4 separate regions of the Homo sapiens genome follow, and regions 2, 3 and 4 are each linked to region 1. Evidence: fine-mapped expression QTL. A gene starts in region 1. Each other region holds a variant in brackets. All regions are shown on one strand. Distances are between the middles of the regions. Region 1 holds the start of SMAD3 (SMAD family member 3). Region 2 overlaps SMAD3 (SMAD family member 3). Region 3 overlaps SMAD3 (SMAD family member 3). Region 4 overlaps SMAD3 (SMAD family member 3).

Evidence for each region. PIP is the estimated chance that this variant, and not a neighbour inherited with it, causes the effect. A credible set is the group of variants that fine-mapping cannot tell apart.
Region 2: its variant is the best candidate, but not a certain one, in a credible set for the expression of SMAD3 in nasal epithelium (TOPMed, PIP 0.83).
Region 3: its variant is the best candidate, but not a certain one, in a credible set for the expression of SMAD3 in lung (TOPMed, PIP 0.59).
Region 4: its variant is the best candidate, but not a certain one, in a credible set for the expression of SMAD3 in thyroid (GTEx, PIP 0.73).

Annotation. Positions count from the first base shown.
Region 1 is chr15:67,062,757-67,067,756 of GRCh38, reverse strand. It overlaps SMAD3 (SMAD family member 3), which reads right to left and starts at 2,155. Exons shown (of 9, transcript NM_005902.4): 1 at 1,397-2,155. The coding sequence starts at 1,602. SMAD3-DT (SMAD3 divergent transcript) reads left to right here and starts at 3,575. Exons shown (of 6, transcript NR_135686.1): 1 at 3,575-4,641. RefSeq lists silencers at 939-1,028, 1,049-1,108, 1,359-1,408, 1,559-1,718, 1,889-2,378 and enhancers at 829-1,597, 3,137-3,907.
Region 2 is chr15:67,098,767-67,104,027 of GRCh38, reverse strand. The region is part of intron 1 of SMAD3 (SMAD family member 3); the gene reads right to left. Among named protein-coding and RNA genes, the nearest start is that of SMAD3, 36 kb to the right of the region's middle. RefSeq lists an enhancer at 2,913-3,062. The variant G/A (reference allele first, on the strand shown) is at 1,982.
Region 3 is chr15:67,181,787-67,186,786 of GRCh38, reverse strand. SMAD3 (SMAD family member 3) reads right to left here. Exons shown (of 9, transcript NM_005902.4): 7 at 1,923-2,060. Among named protein-coding and RNA genes, the nearest start is that of SMAD3-AS1, 37 kb to the right of the region's middle. The variant C/A (reference allele first, on the strand shown) is at 2,173.
Region 4 is chr15:67,125,649-67,130,648 of GRCh38, reverse strand. The region is part of intron 1 of SMAD3 (SMAD family member 3); the gene reads right to left. Among named protein-coding and RNA genes, the nearest start is that of SMAD3-AS1, 19 kb to the left of the region's middle. The variant T/C (reference allele first, on the strand shown) is at 2,307.

The sequences.
Region 1 (5,000 bases):
CACCGCCTTCCCTCCCCCTTTATTGACTGGATCCACCCAGTTAAAAAAAATTTAAGTCCGCACTCCCACCATATGTGGCATTTATTTCCAGGGGAGGCCTGCCCTCGGTTCCCGTGGACAGATGTTGCTTTGTGCCTGCCTGACTCGCCTGGCAGCCCCTGTACAACTGCCCCAAGCAGGTGGCCAAGGATGGAGTCCACCCTGGCCCAGGAGCAGGGATGACAATCCCTTTGCGGCTGACAGTCCCTGGTGCTTTCTACTCATTCCTCGGCAGCCTGGGACCCCCAAAAGAGCCAGCCCCCAACACACACGCTCTCTCCCTTGGTTCAGCATCAAAGGAGGCTGAGAGGTAGAGACAGGAAGCCAAGGTACCCGCACCCCCAGTTCCCAGCCAGGCACATCTAAGCTAAGGAAGGCCCTGGGGGAGTGAAGTCACTGACCCCTTCTATCAGCCATCTGTGGGCTCCCGCCCGACCTAGCTAGCGCGCAACGGGAAGGATAAAGGAGATCCAGACAGATGGCAGCGCGCTTTGGGAAGGAAGGCTCTACAGGAATGCGAGGGCCGATGCGAGGCCCACTTTGGGGTGTGTTTTGTTATCTGCCCGGCTGCAGCCTGCCCCTCTCCCTCGTTCTGCACGGTTTCAAAATCTCTTGGACCAAAAGAAGGGCAAAAGAGTCGGGATGGGGGGGTGGGAGGTGGGAGAAGACCCTATTTTCCGCCACTTGTCTCTCCCATTTGGAAGTCAGAGCATTGCACTGCAACCAAAGTGCGTGCATGCTCAGGGGGCGGGAGACTGGCACAACCGAGTCTAAAAATACTCGATAAAAATGCTAATCCCGAAGGCAAAGAAAGAACGAAGAAGGAATCTGTCAATCACTAGGCTCCCGCTCCTCACCCACAGCCCCAGCTGTACGGACCGCATTCCTGTAGAGGAAAGTGGGGAGACCCGACTGAAGAAAAGAAACGCAAAGACACCACCACCTCCACGAGCGCGGGCCGCGGGGGCGGGAGGCGGCGGCGGAGGAGGGGCTCCGGCCCGCGGAGCCGAACAAAGCGGGCCTCAACTTCCAGCCCCAGCTCCCCGGAGTGGGGGCGGCCGAGTCCCGCAGCAACCCGCTCTCCCCTCCCGGAGGTGGAAAGGGAATGTGAGGTGTGGAAGCCAGAGTGCCGCGTGGAAGCCTCGGGCTCTGATCTTTGCAAATCAGAGATGGTTTTGTTTGGGGTCCCCCCACCCCCTTCCTGCCCGCGCTCTCCCACTCTCACACACACGCACCCACACAGTCTCACTCCCTCCCTCTCTCTCCCTCTTCCCATCTCCAGCCCCACTGGGTCGGCCCCGCAGTGCCAGGGGGCTGGGCCGGCGTGACCCCGGGTCCCCCCCGGGCGGGCCCCCACCTGGGGATGGTGATGCACTTGGTGTTGACGTTCTGCGTGGTGATGGCCTTCTCCAGCTCGTCCAGCTGCCCCGTCTTCTTGAGTTTCTTGACCAGGCTCTTGACCGCCTTCTCGCACCATTTCTCCTCCTGCCCGTTCTGCTCGCCCTTCTTCCAGCCCAGCAGGCGCTTCACGATCGGGGGAGTGAAAGGCAGGATGGACGACATGGCTGGGGAGGGCGCGCGGGCGGCGAGGAGCGCCCCCGGCGGGGCTGGGCTCGACGGGACGCCGGGGGCGCAGAGGGGAGCTCGGCCGGGGCCTGCCGCGGTCGCCCAAACTTCGCCTCAACTCTCGGCGAAGTTGCCGGGGCGCCGGGCCGGGCCGCGGCGCTGCAGCCTGCGGGGCTCGGCGCGCGGCCCTGCGCCCGGAGCGGCTCCCACGGCGAAGAGAAGAGCGGCCGGGCGGGCGGACGGCAGCAGTGCAGGGTCGGGAAGGCCCCGAACGCGGGGCGGAGGCGGCGGCCGCGAGACTCCAAGTGGCAGCAGAAGTTTGGGTTTCCGCACGGGGTAGCTGTTTGGGTGCCGCCTCCGGGAAGGAAAGTCCAACCCCCGGCCAAACTTCGCTCGCCTCGCTAGCTTTGATGCGCAGATCCCTCCGCCTCTGCGGCCTCACCGCCCCGCCACCCTCCTCCTCCCGGCTCGCCGCTCGCTCGCTCGCTGGCTGGGCCGGCCCGGGGCGTGCGCCGCGCTCCCGCTCCCGCCCGCTCCCAGTCTGTGTTTCATGCAAATCCGCGTGCAGCCTCCTTTCCAAGTGCTGTCACCGCCCCCTCGCCGCCGGGGCTCCCCGCCTCCTCCCCCGCGCCCCGCCACCTCCTCCCGCGGGCGCCCTGCCCGCCCCCTGCTCCGGGGAGGGCGCCCGGCCGGCCACCACCCCGCGCCCAGCACGCCCACGTGGGCGACCCGGGCGGCGGCAGTCCTGGCTGGAGCGCGCGGGACCCTGCGCGGCCCCGACCTGAAGTCGGGCGGGCGCGGGGAGGAAGTCCTGGGAAACACGGCGAGAGGGGCCTCGGGCGGGAGGGCTGAGCGCGGCCCGTGGCGTCCGCTCTCGGAGTCCACACTCGGGCGGCTCGGTTGGAGTTGCGGGCCGGAGAGGGTTGGACTCGCAGCAAGTAAGCGTCGTCCGGACGCGAGTGCACCCTGGAGAGGACCCGAGCCCGAGAGGGGGCGCGCGGAAGGCCCGGGCCCAGGAAGTTGGGGCCCGCACTTGGCCTCGCGCTTGCTGATCCCCGTCAAGGCCCTTGGCCGGCGCCGGCGCCCCTGGGCTGTTTTTATTCTCTAGTCGGTGAGATCACACCGGCCGAGAGCCTCGGGAACGTGTGCGGAGGAGGAGGGGGTGAGAAGTGGGTCCTCAGAAGTGGAGAGCTGGGGACACCAGTGACAACCTGGACAATGGCTGGAGCCAGGGGTCTCTTGAGCCTTGTGAACCGAGTGCCCGGCAGAAAATGAGCCTCAAGGACATCTGTTGAGTTCTTGAAGGAATGAATGGAGGGGCTTTCGAATTTATCTTTGAAAGAAATTTACATAACAGGGTGTTTGTTGCTGGATCTCCTGATAGAGAAGGATCGGAAATTTGATAATTGCCAATAAATGGAAGAGAGTTTTGTTTCCAAAGCAATGAACTCACAAAAAAGTGGGGCAAGACAGGAGTTTTCGGAGAGTTTGTGTATTCAAAAAAAGCAAAACAACAACAAACCAATTGGCACATTGGGGAGCTCCGCGGCTTTTCTCCCCACCAAAAGAATTCAGGGGCGTCTGCCCGCAGGGCCCTCGGCGGTTTTCAGGAGCTACTCCAGGCCCCTCGGCCTTTCTCTTGCTGCCTCCCGCAGCCGACTAGCCGGTGTCTAAGCCCTTTGTTTGTTTTTAACAGCAGGAATCTCCCACCCCCACCCCTGCTTTGTTAAAAAAAAAAAGTTATCTGGAACCCTCAAGTGGGTGGGGAGTTACAAAGCCCTGTGAGGTGTGGCGGAATCCACAGTCAGCCCAGAAGCGGCAGGGGCCCTTGCCTTGCTCCGGAGAACCGCCTCCCACAAGCCAATCCGCAGCTGCTGCTGCAGAAGTGCGCTGTGCTCCTCACCCTCCTCTCTTCCTAAATACCCGCCTGAAAAGGAGAATACGTGAAAGCCAACTGAGGCTTGACAACCTGGCTTCCGTTCCTTGCTGGTCCTCCTGTTAACGCGCTGCCGCTGTGGTCTTAGGTTTCACTCTCCTCTTCCCGTCCGTCAAGAGAGACAAGGATGACACAATCCACATTTATTGATTGCTTTCTTCATTCCGGGTAGTCCGCCTGCTGCCCTTTGATTCAGTCTTAACAGTGGTTGGTGAGGTAGATGTTCCTGTGCCTCACGTTTACGGAGGCACAGAGAGATTACATTACTTACTCAGGGTTCCAAGTGGCAGAGCTGGAATTTGAACCCAATACTTTGTTGAAGCCTCAGTCTCCGATCTTGAGACTGCACCCAGCTGCCTGGGTCACGGAAGGCAAAGATGACATCATTGATCGAGCTCTTTGCAAAACAGTTCTCTACACGGGCACACTGTTGTAACACTGCAAGGATTATTTGCTCACCTGTAAAATGGGGCTAGAGGTAGCTTCCCTCGCGATCTCCTAGGGTGGCTGTGGGAAGCTCATGTGAAAAGGTTTGCATTGCTAATGCCATGAAAAGTGGTGGAGGGAGGTCAAATAAGTTTAACACACATTGACGGAGCAGCTCTGAGTTGCAGCCCTCCTATTCAGTTCCTGAACTTCCAAAATAAAAGACTAAGGTTTTCAAGGCGTTCACAGCCTAGAGAAGCATCAAAGGGTGGGGATGAGGATGATGTGACTGAGTGGGCAAAGATGGGCAGGGGCCTTGCAGTCATCATCGTCCAGTAAAGTGTTAATCTTAACCTGAACAAGTCCAACCATTGAGAGGTAGCCAAAGAAAGTAAGAGGGGCTCAGGATCCATCAGTGACTGGCCTGGCTTCCAATCCCGGCTCTTTCTCTTCTTCCCCTTGGGCAGCGTCCGTTCTCTCCGCTGTAAGAATGGAGCAAGCGGTTCTCACTGTGCAGAGTGGTGGATCCAGAAAGAGCATTGTAACTGTCCTCCTGTAGTTCAAGTCCTTTATGTTACAGAGAGAGCAATGTCTGCTGAAGGAGAGTGATTTGCACTGTAGAGGAAGAGCGTCAGAGAGATTTGAGGATTACATGTAGTAGAAGGACCTGACAGGTACTTCACCCTGTAAAATCATGGTATGGGAAGGGGCCCTCATTCAGCCCTCTCATTTTCCTGAGGGGAGGAAATAACTAGGCAGCCAGCTAGTTAGTGTGGCAGAACCATGCTTCCCTGCTGGCATCCGTGTGACAAGAACAGCTGTGCATGCAGAAAAATAGTGCTGGACCCACCTACAAGTCTAATAAGTGCCATTTCTGGGCTAGTTCTTTCTCCTCAGGCCTGTTTCTCCAAGAGAAGTCCCTCCACTGGGGGACTAAGTCCAGTTTCAGAAAGCTCTGAGGAGGGCTGAGGAACTGATTCTTCCAGTGCTGAGAAGACCCTGCATGTTCTCTTGATCTTGACTTTGGGCAGTG
Region 2 (5,261 bases), 36 kb before region 1:
CTCGGCTACGCACCCCTTTCCTTCCTCCAGGCTTCCTGTCTCCCTTCTGTACAGTCACCACCAACTACCCTTGAACGTCAACACCTCTGGAAAAGGTGAAATAATTCTGCCACCTTCAATACGGCAAATAGCCTCTCTAATCAATCCAAGTAAGTGTTTATGGCAATCCAGCAACGAGTTTGGCACAAAGAAAGAGGTCCAGGGTGGTCACTCACGGTAATGTCAAAGCCGAAACGGTGGATCCAGAAGCACTGACAGTTGGAGGAAACCCTCCTCATTGTTGCAGCTCTGTTCCAGCTCCTTGTTGTGCTATGTGCTTAGGAAAACCGCACAGGGGTGGGGAGTCCACACACAGGCCCACACCCCACACACATTCAGCTCCACAACCAGCAGTCACAGCTGGAAAGGGTAGCTGGGCTGAGGAAACTGCAGCCCAGGGAGGGTGAGTGGGACTCAGGGATCCTGGACTCCAGGTCAGTAGCACACACCAGCACAGCGCCTACCCCAGAAGCCCTGGGCCAGACCCACCCAGCCTTAATGTCAGGGCACAGTTAGCCTGGACACAAAACCATGAATAACTCATGTTTGCATCGTGTTCTGCTGTTTTCCAAACTCTTTCTCATCCCTCACTCTCTCCTGATCATCATGCAGTCTTCAATACAGTCAAGGTGGGTCCTGCTATCCCCTTGTCGAGTGATGTGAAGTGAGTCCCAAGGAGGCCATGTGCCTTGTGTGAAACCACACGGAACAGGTTCAAGTGTGTAGCTTTTGCACGACCTTGACTACACTACCTTGACTATAACTCTTCCACTGGGGTGATGGGAGGCAGGGGCAAGGAGTTAAGAAAAACAACAAAAAGAACAGTACAGCTCCATACAAAGGAAGTTGACAATCAAATTTGGGCAGATGAATGACACACAGACAAGCTGCCTTCACAGAAAAGAGCCAAATTAATGCATTCAAAAATGTGTACTGAGCACGTACTACATACCAGAGCTGGGAAGTGAGGCAACAGACCATTCATAGACAGTTAAGACTAAGGAGATGGGACCTGTTTTGGGTTTGAAAGAAGAAAGGTACAGAGGAGTCTAGGAGAGCATCCCAGGAAACGTAATGGGGAGCTAAAACATGGCAGCAGTTGTGGACAAAGCACATTGAAGAGGAGCTATGATGAGCCTCACCTGGGAGGAGCAGAGGGGCTGCACAGAGGTAAATCCAGAAAGCGGTCACTTCCAAAGAACTTTAAATACCAAGCTAAGGGACCACGTATCATGCCTACAGAAACATGGTATATCCAGATCTTCCCAGTCCATTCAACGTCACTCCCTGCAACTGACCAGCCAGGACCACCAAGAGGTTCAGAATTCTACCTGTTTAACAGAATTCCCCATCATACATTGGATGGTCTTGCTCCCATCTCACCCAGGACAAGTCTATACACACAGGTCATCCCAGTATGGCCCTGAATTAGCACCTTGGACATACAATTCCCACAGATGAGGACAGATATGAACACTCACAAATCCACTCCACTGCTCAAAAGAATGTGGTGGAAGGCACACTTTCTAAAGGGCTGCATTTCACACATTTTAAGTGGTTTTCACACATTTCTGAGCAAGTGCATGACTGCTGTATGTGTATGAACATAACAAGTTTCAAAAGGGAAAAAACAGTGGTTAAATCTGACTCATCCTACTCTCCTGGCTTTTTTCTTTCTCTCAACACAAACTCATGCACGCGAGCATGCACACACACACCGCACACACACACACACACACACTTTCACAGCATTTCCCCCAAGACTGATCTGAATAACATGGTGGGCCTCGAGGCAGGAAGGATTCACTGGGTCAATTATCCTCATTCTGAACAAGCTCGCCTTCCAGGTGACCCATGAAAACACAATTTAACCATGAACTTCCGGAAGGCAGGACCTGGTTCTACTCACACAGCCTTAAACAGATCAGGTGCCTCATAATCC[G/A]ATTTGATGGAAGAAATAAATATCAGCGCATTCCAAGCCCTGCTTCCCACAGCTAAGGCTCTCCTAAAGACAAAGGCAAATTCAGCTGTGTCAAGTACAACTCCCAACACAAACTAGTTTGCATTCATTCTTGTTTCTTTCAGTGGCACCCATCCTTGGGTTTCATTTCAGTAAGAGTCTCAACAGCTAACAAAGCACTTTAACGTCCATCATCTCATGCAGATGCTTACACCAACTCCATAAGATAGGAGAGGCCAGAAATATCATTCACATTCAAAGATGAGGACTCTGAATGTGAACAACCTTTAGGTCACTTTCCTAAGGTCATGTAGCTAATCAATCTCGATCTTGTCATTCCTTGCCTACGGATCTCACCTCAGTTACTGAGAGTATAACTGAACTTCCAAGATCCTCAAACCTTATTCAGCTTCTCCTAGGGATTACACAGATATTTAATTCAATTACAGCTCAGCCTGTTCCAGTGGCATCATCATCACTGTCATCATCATTGCTATACTGGCACCGACCAGGACAGGATACAAGAGCTCGACCTCAGAGAGCAGGCAGGCCTACCCAGTACATGCCAGAGGGTGGGAGAGTCAGGGGGCTTGCTAAATTTGAAACCTTTTTCTGACATCCAAGTATTTAAACAGCTCATTGACTCCCATACGTAAATATTACTATAAGCTACAGTTTCATTTACCCTGTGCTGGGGCCAACAGGGTTTGAAAGTAGAGTAAGCATAAATTAGGTACTGGAAAGTTTCTTATTTCCTGTAGTGTCAGGTGTTCATAGTCAAAAAGAGAAGAAAAGAAGAAGCAGTGTCACATGGCAAGTCTCCCAACAAACACCAAACGTATGTATTTGCACACAATTAGTCCCTTTCGCTAACTGCCCAAAGCGAGTAGCACAACAGGAATTGTTCTAGACACATCCACAAGGACACAACCCAGGACTTGGGATATTTCTATTTCTACTACAAAGCCCCAGAGCCTCCTGAGCCTCACCTCAGGGTGAGACAGACAGTTTCCTGAGCACCCATGGAAAGCACAAAATGCCAGGTGGAATAGAGCTGATCCTCAGTGACCCAGAACATACCCAAAGACATAAAGGAGCCAAAACCCCCTTTTCCACTGTGACTTCCCCAATAGAAAGTGAGGAGGCTAGAAGCCAAAGCTCAACTCTGGTACGCTGCTCTGTGCCCTTGAGCAAGTCACTAGCACTCTCTGGGTCTCTGGTTCCTCATAAAGGTAGAGCCTGGATTGGAAAGTCCCATTCTTTCTTCTGCCTCAGTGTACACGTAAATGTCCCATTCCTTTCTTTCCTACCCAATACAAACCTATCAGAAACTAAGTCAGTGACATGGACACCATTAGAGGAATACATTTGATTTTAATATATATTAAAATCAATTTATATGTTTATCACAATATATTGATATATTTATCACAATATATCACAGTATATCACAATATATTAATATTGTAATTAATACATTTATTAATACATTAATATATTAATACATGCAGCAAAAATCTACCATGTTAGCCATTTTAATGTGTATAATTTGGTGGCATTGAGTTCATTCACAATATTGTACAACCACCGCAACTATTTTGTTCCAGAACATCCCTCAAGGAAACCCTGTATCCATGAAGCAGTCACTCCCCATTCCCCTCTCCTCCATCCCTGGCAACTACTAATCTGCTTTCTGTCTCTGTGAATTTGCCTATGGGGATACTGCATGGGAATGGAATCATGTGATATGTGGCTTTTGATGTCTGAATTCTTCAACTCAGCACAATGTTTTCAAGATTCACCCATGTTGTGGCACATACTTCATTCCTTTTTTTTTTTTTTTTTTTTAGATGGAGTTTCGCTCTTGTTGCCCAGGCTGGAGTGCAAGGGTGCGATCTCGGCTCACTGCAACCTCTGCCTCCTGGGTTCAAGCAATTCTCCTGCCTCAGCCTCCCAAGTAGCTGGGATTACAGGCATGTGGCACCATGCCCGGCTAATTTTGTATTTTTAGTAGAGATGGGGTTTCACCATGTTGGTCAGGATGGTCTTGAACTCCTGACCTCAAATGACCCACCCACCTTGGTCTCCCAAAGTGCTGGGATTACAGGCGCAAGCCACTGCGCCCGGCCACGTACTTCATTTCTTGGCTCAAAAAATATTCCATTGTAGAGTGGAATATGCTTTTGAATTAATTGCTAAGTAAATCATTCACAGACTGTAGTACTATTATTAGCAACAATTAAATAAGATAATCTATGTAAGGTATGGGGCACGTGGTGTGCAATCAGTTAGCATTCACTTTTCATCATCAACAAAAATTCCTCATAGCACACCTCGCTGGTGGTGGTGTCATCACACCTTACTTGGGAATCAATAGGCTGGAGGTGTCATCCAGATCCCATCTTCTGAGTACATGAATCAAAACATTTCTGCACAAGTATTACATATTCCCCCAGTTCTCCAATGTATGCGGACCTCTGGCGAGTAAACCTTCCTTATGCAGTAACCATTATAAGCTAGCAAAACACTGGAACCCTTCTTCAAGTAATCTTGCCACATGAAATTTACCAAAACAGAAAATCCTTGGGGAGGTGGTGTAATTCTCCATTTTTCAAAATGACTTACAACAGGATTCCTTTAAATGGTTTTCCCAGTAGTCTTAAAACACAATTCAATTTGCATAATCAACATTTCAACAACACACCTTCTCTATAAAATACTATGCAGCTGTCTGAGCTGGGCTCCAACTTTGGAGGACAGTGATGCTTACAAGACATGAGGAATTGATGTCTGCTTTTCCCCATAATCAGCATGCTGAATCCAGAGACAGAAGTCCTTAGTCCTTATCCCACTTTCCAGCCCTGTGACTGTGAACAAGAGCGGCTACTTCTTCTCATGTCAGTGTATTCCCAGGAATGCAGAAGTCACAGCCACTTTCTCTAAGGCTGACACATGAATCAACAGGGCGGCAACCACAGAAAGGAGAATTATCATGGGTACTCACAGAGTTGATCCTCGCTCAGGACATACGCTCTGTCCACAGTTTGGGGCAAAAGTCCACATTTGTGAAGCATTTCAGAACACTGTCCCATCTCCATGGGCTGCCTGACCCTCCTCCACACTGGCCCCCTCAGGAACGGAGTCCACCCTCCCATCCATGTATGCCCTCCCACCGTCCCCAAATCCCCCAGCTGAGCAACAGTGGGCCCTCAGACCCCCGCTGGGGATGCGTAGGACCCTCCATGCCCACTTCCACCTGCCT
Region 3 (5,000 bases), 120 kb before region 1:
GGGGCTAGGAGGTAAGGAGAGATCTGGGCCAAATTTTGGCCTCTGGGCACTGGGCTGGGTGGAGGTGACATTCACAGCTAAGTGAAGGTGTGCATCTGATTCTCCAGACAGTAAAACTAAAGACAGTCACAAATAAAGTTTAAAATAAATGTCGTTTGAAGTCTTACTGCCTGAGTGCCAGGAATGTGTCAACCAGAAAAATAAAGACAAAAGCACATGCTGGAAATAGCCAAAAGGTGAGCCGGGGTGACGCTTATGAATGAGCCAACAGCAGGCTCCTGTTCTTGCTGTGTGACTCTGAGCTGGTCGCTTTCTCTTGGGGACCCTGTGTCTCTGTATAATGAAGGGCTGGCCTCAGAGGTCCTTCCAGCTCTGACATTCTATGAGCTGACAAACAACACCACAGCCAACTCAGCCCTCACCCAAAAGATGGGGGTGGGGCCGGGGAATGGAAGAGGCAGAAGGCCAAGAGCGTCACTGAGCTTCCTCTTCTTCATTCTCTCCAAGGACAAGGGTGGTGGAACAGGGCTGAACCTGGGCCCTGACCCCCAGCAGAGCCAAGAAGCAGAAGAGCACCAAACTTGAGAGTCCATCAGCCCTAGGCCCCATCCCGGCTTGGCCACTTACTAGCTGTGTGCGCTTGGGCAGGTGGCTGAAACTCTCTGAACTTGTCTCTCAAAGCGTCTCCTTACTTATAGAGCCAGAGAATAACTGGTGAGGACTAAATGAGGTCAACGATCGGAATGTACTCTATAAATGCAACCACAAAATGCTCTGGAAACCTGGTGTGCTATTATCATTTCAGACTTTCTGCATTCTAAAGTTTCCCCTGCCTGTGGTCTACCACTTCTCCACTACCATCTGCTACTCAGTGGGCAGGAAGGGGCATGCCACACACGTGCCACAGGCAATGGCCTGGCCAGGTTACCTGCTCCACTAGTCTGTCACAGGCCATGTTCTGTGGGCTGCCTACACAGTGGCTGCACGTCCTGTGAAAAGTGGACTTTGGCTGGGGCTTTCTGCCTTGGTTTCCTGAGGAAAGAGGCCTTAGATGGGATCAGCCACCTGCCTGATCTTGCTGTCCAGGCGTGGCCCTGTCCAAACCACTCTCGGGGGTGCAGCCTGACACCTCTTCTTGGGGTACAGGTGGGATTTTTCAGGCTCACTCAGAAAACCCTCAGCAGTTCCCTAGAGTCAAACTCTCTGGTGTCCTTCCACGGCCTCATGCTGTTGTGCTTTTGAAACATTTCCCCTGACGGTCTCATACATGACCCTCCTCCAGCCAGAGAGCTACCCATCCATGTCCTGCCCTCCATTACCTCAGGCCCTTTGCCTGGGCTGCTCCCCCTGTCTAGAATGCCCTCCCTGTGCCTAGTGCCTACCTATCCTTCAGGATCCGGATGTTTCTCCTCCATGAAGACTTCCCTGATCCATCCCAACAGCTAAATGGGCCTTCTCTCTACCTGGGCTGCTGGCTTGGTGCTTGGCACCCGTCCCTTATATTGAACTCATCCGTGTCTTTGTCTTCTGTGCTCTGCAGGCCTGTAAGGTCTGCGGGGGCAGAGCAGGGCCGCATCTACCTCTTCATCCCCTACAGCACCTGGCACAGAGCCCTGCATGCTGTTTGTGCAATGAATGAGTGAAGAAAGGAAGCCATACTGCCTGAGCATCTACGCACAGGGCAACAGGCAGGTACCCACAGGTTAAAGGCAGACCTATCAGATGCTACATCTGCTCCCTGGAAGTTCAGGGAAAGCACAGTTAGATCTGTGGGCATAGAGAAAACCTAATCCAATCACCTCCAGATTGACAACGCAATCATGAGTGAGCAGAAAAGGTGAGAAAGGTGGACTCTCTCCAGCATCCTAGGCATGCACTCGGAGAGGGACCTCAAGGCAGGGGTGCCTGTGCGGCTCGTTTACCTGGTGGGATCTTGCAGACGGTGGCCGGGTGCCAGCCATAGCGCTGGTTACAGTTGGGAGACTGGACAAAAATAGCGCTGTCACTGAGGCACTCTGCGAAGACCTCCCCTCCGATGTAGTAGAGCCGCACGCCTCTTCCTACAGAGATTCAGGTTAGACTGGACAGGGTGCCTTTGCTCACACACAATGGCCCTGGGGCCACCTGAGGCTCGCAAAGGAGGCAGAACAGCAGAGCTGCTCCCAGTGACTG[C/A]CAGCTTCCCCAGGCAAACGGGCCCCAAAGCCCAAGCCTAAAGTAGGGGAAATGGGCACTGCCGGATTCCTAAAGCCAAGGGAGGCAGATGACAAGAGATGGGCACACAGGATAGGTCTCAGTGACAGCCTTTGCCACTGAGTAGGCATGGGCCTCAGTCAAGTTATTCACCCTCTGAGTCTTCGTTTGTCTCTACGATAGGGATGGGGGCCAGGCGCGGTGGCTCACACCAATAATCCCAGAGCTTTAGGAGGGCAAGGTGGGAGGATCACTTGAGGCCAGGAGTTCAAGGCCAGCCTGGGCAATGTAATGAGACTTCATCTCTACAAAAACATTTTTTTTTTAATTAACTGGGCATAGTGGCATATCCTTGTAGTCCTAGCTGCTTGGGAGGCTGAGGTGAGTGGATTGCTTGAGCCCAGGGGTTCAAGACTGCCGTGAGCTCCCATCACACCACTGCACTCCAGCCTGGGAGACAGAGTGAGACCCTAACTCCAAAAAAAAAAAAAAAAAGGGAATGATGATAACCTCTACCCTTGCAGGATTACTGTGAGACACACAGTAAGTGCCTGGTGTCAGCTTTTCTTGCTGCTACTGCTACTACTACCCCACTATTATTTGGTCTCTTCACACTCCAAGATTCAGAGATTCATTCAGTAAACCTGCAGGGCTCCTTCTGATGCAGCAGACACCCCAAGGAGCCCTTTATTGCAGGGATGGTTTAACGCTATGCCCTTATTTTTTTCTTCCCTCAATGCATTTTTCTAAAACATTCCAGAGGTTTATATCATTTACTTTTCTTTCATCTCTTAAATCCACTCCAGATGGACAGAAATTATTTTTAAATTGGCTCTGCAACTCAAACAGTTGCGTAAACTCTGACAATGAGCTCTTTGCTCGGCCAGGGGATGGTCCCTTCTCCTGCATGGCAAAGTCTCTGCTCCATTCCTGGGGAAGAAGCTCAGAGGTCAGAACACGGAGCCAGATATTACAGGCCCAGCATCCGGTAGGATGAACACGAGGTGACCGACCCATGCATCACTGGATGTCCCCTGTCCTGCCTCCTATTCCCACTACTGTCCCCTTCCTCCAACCACTCCCCATTTTTTCTGGCTTTAGTTCTGCAGGGTGCTGGTGGCTCAGAGTCCACAGGAGGGATGACTTCCTGGCTGTCCACAACTGTATCATGTCAGTAAGAGCAGAAGGCAGAGGTGGGGATGCGAAGACCCAGACCAAAAATGTTTGTTTCGTTTCAGTAACTTAAAAAAATAGGCCGGGCATGGTGGCTCACACCTGTAATCCCAGTACCTTGGGAGGCTGAGGCGGGCAGATCACCTGAGGTCAGGAGTTCGAGACTAGCCTGGCCAACGTGGTGAATCCCCATATCTACTAAAAATACAAAAAATTAGCCAGGTGTGGTGGCACATGCCTGTAATCCCAGCTACTCAGGAGGCTGAAGCAGGAGAATCACTTGAACCTGGGAGGTGGAGGTTGCAGTGAGCCAAGATTGTGCCATCGCACTCCAGCCTGGGAGACAAGAGCGAGACTTGGTCTCCCCGCTCCAAAAAAAAAAAAAAAAAAAATATATATATATATATATATATATATATATATTTTTTTTTTTTTTTAATAAAATATAGAAAAAAGCCAGTTGCAGTGGTATATGCCTATTGTCCCAGCTAATCAGGAGGCTGAGATGGGAGGATAGCTTGAGCCCAAGAGTTTGCGACTGGGCCTGGGCAACATAGCAAGACCCTATCTCTAAATCAATCAATCAATCAAACAGTGGTATGCCACCCAGAATAAGTATCTTTTTTGAAGTAAAAAACAAAAAGCGAAATGGGAACAACAGGTCTGGTAGTGGTGGCTGTCTGTCACTGACAATGAGGTCTCTGCAGAGCCGTTCCCTACCCTCCCCAACCCCCTAGACATCAGGTCCCTTTCCTAGAAAATGAGAGCACAGACCTAGGCCCATGGCCTCCAAACTTTTCTTCTCTTCACTACAGAATCAATCCTCTCTTCAAATGAAGTCTTCTGTGAGAGCCCGAGATATAAAGCAAGCGAGTGCAGAGGTGCCCTGGTTCACGTGGGACCAGGCTTCCCTTTGCTAACCTGCCCACCTCCTGAGTTTGCCGCAGGAACCCTTTGCCAACCCTTGGGGCTCCAGGACAAGGTCTGAGAAAACCTCACTCTGCCATCTCTCTACAGCCCTTCTAAGTTCTGACAGTTGTGATTCTGGATCGTAAAATCCTCTAAGCTTGATAACTTCATAAGCAAACCAAGTGATGCGTAACACAGCTTCATCTTCCTTAAACTCACAAAGTCATCTTTTACTTATGTTCTGGGGGCTAGAAGGCAGAAGGTTCACAGTAGTGGTGTTTGGATAGTGGACAATTCTTTTCTACCTTTTCTAAATTGTTTAGAATAATGATACATGAAAATAAGAGAAGATCACTCTTCCAACAATGACTGCCTACTTATCAACCTATCCATCTGTACTTTCAGAGTATTTTTATTTAGAGGATTTCAGCCAGGCACGGTGGCTCACGCCTGTAATCCCAGCACTTTGGGAGGCCAAGGCAGGTGGATCACCTGAGGTCAGGAGTTCGAGACCAGCCTGGCCAACATGGAGAAACCCCGTCTCTACTAAAAACACAAAAATTAGCTGGGCGTGGTGGTTGGGTGCCTGTAATCCCAGCTACTTGGGAAGCTGAGGCAGGAGAATCGCTTGAACCCAGGAGGCAGAGGTTGCAGTGAGGCAAGATTGTGCCATTGCACTCCAGCCTGGATAAAGCAAGACTCTGTCTCCAAAAAAAAAAAAAAAATAG
Region 4 (5,000 bases), 63 kb before region 1:
TTCTCTGTGTAGGGCAGTGGTCCCCAATCTTTTTGGCACCAGAGATGAGGGTTGGGGGGGATGTTTCAGGACGAAACTGTTCCACCTCAGATCATCAGGCATTAGATTCTGATATGGAGTGTGCAACCTAGATCCCTCCAATATGCAGTTCACAATAGGGTTCACGCTCCTATGAGAATCTAATGCAGCCGCTTATCTGACAGGAGGCGGAGCTCTGGCCGTAATGCTCACTTGCCCACCACTCACCTACTACTACGAGACCCGGTTCCTAACAGGCCGCACACGGGTATCAGTCCACGGCCCCGGGGTTGGGGACCCCTGGTGTAAGAGAAGGAGGTCAGGTGAGTGGAAGGCACCTAGTACCGGAGTCAGCAGGCCCTATTCCAAATTCTAACTCTACCTGGGACTACGTGGCCTTGGGTAAGTTGCTGGGCCTCTCTGAGTTTCTGTTGCCTCATCTGTAAAATGCACATGATATTCATCCACCATGCAAGGCTGCTGTGAGAACTAAATGGAATGACAAAGGTAGAGTATCTAGCACAGCACTTGGGACATAGTAGACATTCAGCAAATGCAAGTTTCCCTTCTTCCTTAATGGGAAGAAGACCAAGCTCTGGTCCCACCCGGCTCCTCACTAGCTGTGTAACTCAGCCAGTGAGCTCAATGACTCCACTCCAAAATGCAGGTGACATCAACTGACCTAACGAAGAAATCCTGTAGCTGTGGTGTCCAATATGGTGGCCACCAGCCACATGGCAGCACTTGAAATGTGGACAGTGCAAACTGAGATGTGCCACAAGTATAAAGGACACATCAACTTCAGACTCAGTATGATAAAGAAGAATGTAATATAGCTCGTTAACAATCTTTATATTTGAGTATATGCTAAAGTGATGATGGTTTGGGATACACTGTATTAAACAAGATATAGTATTTAAAATTAATTTCACCCTCTCTTTACATTTTAACATGGCCAGAAGATTTTAGATTTTAGAAGTAATTGCAATTATCCGAGGGGAATACGTTCCAAGACCACCAGTGGATGCCTGAAACCAGAGACAGTACCAAACTCTATAGACACTGTGTTTTTTCCTGTGCATGTACACCCAAGACAAAGTTTAATTTATAAATTAGGCACAGTAAGAGATTAACAACAATAACTAATAATGAAATTAACAATTATAACAATATACTATCATAAAAGTTATATAAATGTGGTCTCTTTCTCTCAACACATCTGACTGTACTATATTCACCTATTTCCAGACTGTAGCTGACTGAAACCTCATAAGGCAAAACCAAGAACAAGTGGGGGCTACCATACACTGTAGCTCACACTACAGTGATATCCGGCAACACTGCTCTAGAAGGCTAAACAAACCTGAGTTACTGCTTGGCTATTATTCTTTCCCCAAGTAGACTGAAATTCCTTCTTGAGAGAGGAGTCCTGTTAGTTCCTGCTTTATGTTTCCCATAGTGAGGTGCTAAGTGCACATCACTTCCCAGGGGTCCCAGGGGTTGGGGACGCCTGGTGTAGAGGTAGGGGGACAGGAGTGTGGAAGGCATCTAGGATTGGAGTCAGCAGGCTTTATTCCAAATTCCAACTCTACCTGGGACTATGTGGCCTCGGGTAAGTGGCTGGGCCTGAGTTTCTGTTGCCGCATCTGTAAAACGCAAATGACATCCATCCACCACGCACTCAACACTCTGTGCTCAAGGTGCACATCGCCTTTAAGACACAGTGCTAATGGTGCACACCAAAATACTTTTAGAAGGCTGAGCGTGGTGGCTCAGGCCTGTAATCCTGGCACTTTTGGAGGCAGAGGTGGGAGGATCGCTTGAGGCCAGGAGTTCCAGACCAGGCTTGGCAAAATGGCGAGGTTCACTCTACTAAAAAATATATTTAAAAACTAGCTGGGTGTGGTGGCGTGCACCTGCAGTCCCAGCTACTTAGGAGTCTGAGGTGGGACGATCTCTTGAGCCCAGAGGTTTGAGGCTGCAGTGAGCTATGATCATACCACTGCACTCCAGCCTGGGCGACAAAGCAAGACCCCAGCTCTTTGAAAAACAAACTCTTAGAAATCTTAAGTTGGCCTTGAAAAAAAAAATCTTATGAATAAAATCTTAAGGTTTTCGAAATTATAAGTCACTATACACCAGGAACTATGTTCCTGGGTTTTACACACACCAGCTCTTTTAATCCTTCAAGAACCCCATGTTTTACAGATAAGGAAGCTGAGGCAAAAAGGTTGAGGGACTCGGCCAAGGTTACTAAGTGGTCAGGAGTAAAAGCAGGGATCTGAACC[T/C]AGCTGTTCTTACTCCAAGTCCAGGCTGTTCTCCACTGACCATGAAGCCAAGCAGACAGCCCGCTCTCCCTGTTTGCAGTATGACAGCCTCTAAATCTTACACATCTTAGAAAAACTCCAGCCCCAGAGATGCTCTACTTCCCATCCCCACCCCCAACAAAGGATTTCCCAGCAAGTCAGAAATGACAAACCACAAAACGGAGTCCGTGCATAACCATATCCACGTCTGGCCAAGGCTTGGTTAGCTCAGAGTTAGTCACATTTTAAAAGGGGTGAGTGATAGGGAAGGTGGATTCTATTTTGTTGCCTATGAACTTCCTGGCCAAGGGTGCAGGCTGCAAGTTGGAAAGGGAGAACTGGTGGATATCTGAGGGCCTGATAAGATATTTTTTCAGAGGAACACATTAGCAAGGCTGAAAATTTATTCCCAAGTTTCAGAAGCTCAGCTCCCCCCAGCTTCATTGATAGTCTCCCTACCACTTTCAGCCTAAGCTGTCCTCTGGCCTCTAGCCATCCACTCTAGCCTTGGACATGAACGCACTTTGGGGAGAAAGGCCCTGAGCCCGACACAGAATAGACTGACCATAAGCGTGTACAGTAGGATGAGGGGTGGGGTGAATAAATGGATGTACAAACCAACCAATCAATTTCAAAAAGTCTGAAGGTGCAGCAGACACAGCCCTTCATCTTCAGGAACTCCAGAGACGGGCACAGAAGACACGGAACATGTAAGGTCAATATAAGAGTTGCATATGACTAATTGCCAGGTGAGTATTAATATGCACAAGGGTGAAGGAGAGAGGATGAGCAAACCTCTTCCCCTTTGCCTACATCCTGTATGGATTCACAGGTAGAGGGCCGTCTGCAGGGTGCGGCTCAGAGGAGGGAAAGGGCAGGATGGGCCAGTCATCTGGGAATGCTTCCTGGAGGAGGTGCCTGAGGAGGAACAGGACTCAGATGGGACTGGAGGACGTTCTGATGGCTAGCTGTGTCAAGCCTGTCACTTAACCTGTCAGCCTCTTGGTTTCCTTTTTTACAGGGGGAGGCACTGCAGAAACAGAGGGAGGAGACAGAAAAACAAAACACCTGGTAGACAGTTCACATTCGACCTCAGACAGGGTAAATATTTACTTATCCATTCATGAGCCTGGCCCTGGGGAGCGACCTCGGCTTGGGCCACCTGGGTTTATGCCGGTGTCTGGGCTTGATTTGAGGCTCGAGGTGGCCGGTATTTAGCCCACGGCACAGAGTCCAGCCCTATACCTTGTCTGTCTGAGAGCTAAATGGATCCCATTTGATGGCAGTGGAAAAACTGACCACCACGATGACCCTACTGCTCACGCCAAAACATACCAGGCAGTGGCCGTAAGAGCTGCCCTCTAATGAGTGCCCACCTCGTCCTGGAATATTCAAGAGTGTGCCTGTGTGGGTGGTGACTATCTTCTCCTCACCAGGAGGTCGTAGGGAGACACACTGCCCCCCACTCCACAATTCAGTGAGGCCCCACCATTCACACCATGTTACACCAAAGGGATGCTTGAACCAGACCTGCCAGACTCTACTGTCGGAGCTCTCCCAGCTAACCACAGAGCTGAGGAAGAGACATACTCATCCGACAAACATTTACCAAGGGCCTACTGTGTGCCAACCACCGTCCAGGGCCCTGGAACATGGTGTGGACAAGACAGGAAAGGGCTCTGTCCTTGGGGAGCTGGCATTTATGGGGTGAAGATGGGCCTTAAACGCAGAATAGAAAATCAAAACCATCTCAGTGGGTGGTACAGGTTTAATGTCTGAGGGGGAAGTTGGAGCAGGGTCAGCCCCTGGGCCACCTGAACATGAAGATCTGTAACAATCACTGCAAAGCATGTTTAAAATACCTATTTCCAGACTGTACCCCAAGAGTTCCATTAGAAATCTAGGGAGAGGCCAAGAAACAGACAGCTGTGGTAACGGGCTAGGAGACTGGCAGCAGGAGGTCCCGGACCCCTGGAAGTCTAGAGTCTGGGCACAGTGCCCCAGCATGGCCCCACCACTCAGGAGGCAATTGTGAGCAATCACAACTCATGCCTCAATCTCCTCATCTGTAAACAGAGCATCCTAACACCTGGCCTGACACCTCGCAAGATGGTGCCAAGACGCAAAGAAGGCTATGGAGGTAAACTGTAAAGGGCTGAACGAAGGTGAGCTGTGCACATTCTCAAACACGACTGCTGGTAAGATGAACCCAGAAAAGAAAAGAAAAAAACTACGCAATTCCCTAAGGACTCAGGGAGTGTGTGTCGAGCATACAGTTTCTGCTTCTCAGTGACAAATACCCCACACCTAACCCACCCTGCCAAATAAGATAACTCTTACTCAAACGTGGTTGCTCAACACAGGCCCGAGTGTGGGTTTCCATGCAGTTGTCCCATCCTGTGGGAATGTCGCATCCTGTGGGAACCCAGCGTGTGGGGTTCCTGGTGAAGCGAGCGGCGGCAATAAATTACCCCAGTGCCGCGGCTCTTGCCCACATGTTGCTCTTATGGTCAGTGCGCTTCAGCCCAGCAGTGACCTAACCCCAGCACCAGTGAACTCAGCAGCAGGCTCCTCTGTCATCCTCCTCCAGCAAGCACAAGCTCATATTTCAGGCCGTTTGCTCCCCTGGGCATGACTCAGAGGAGTCAGTTGTCTTAAAAAAATGCTTTTCATATT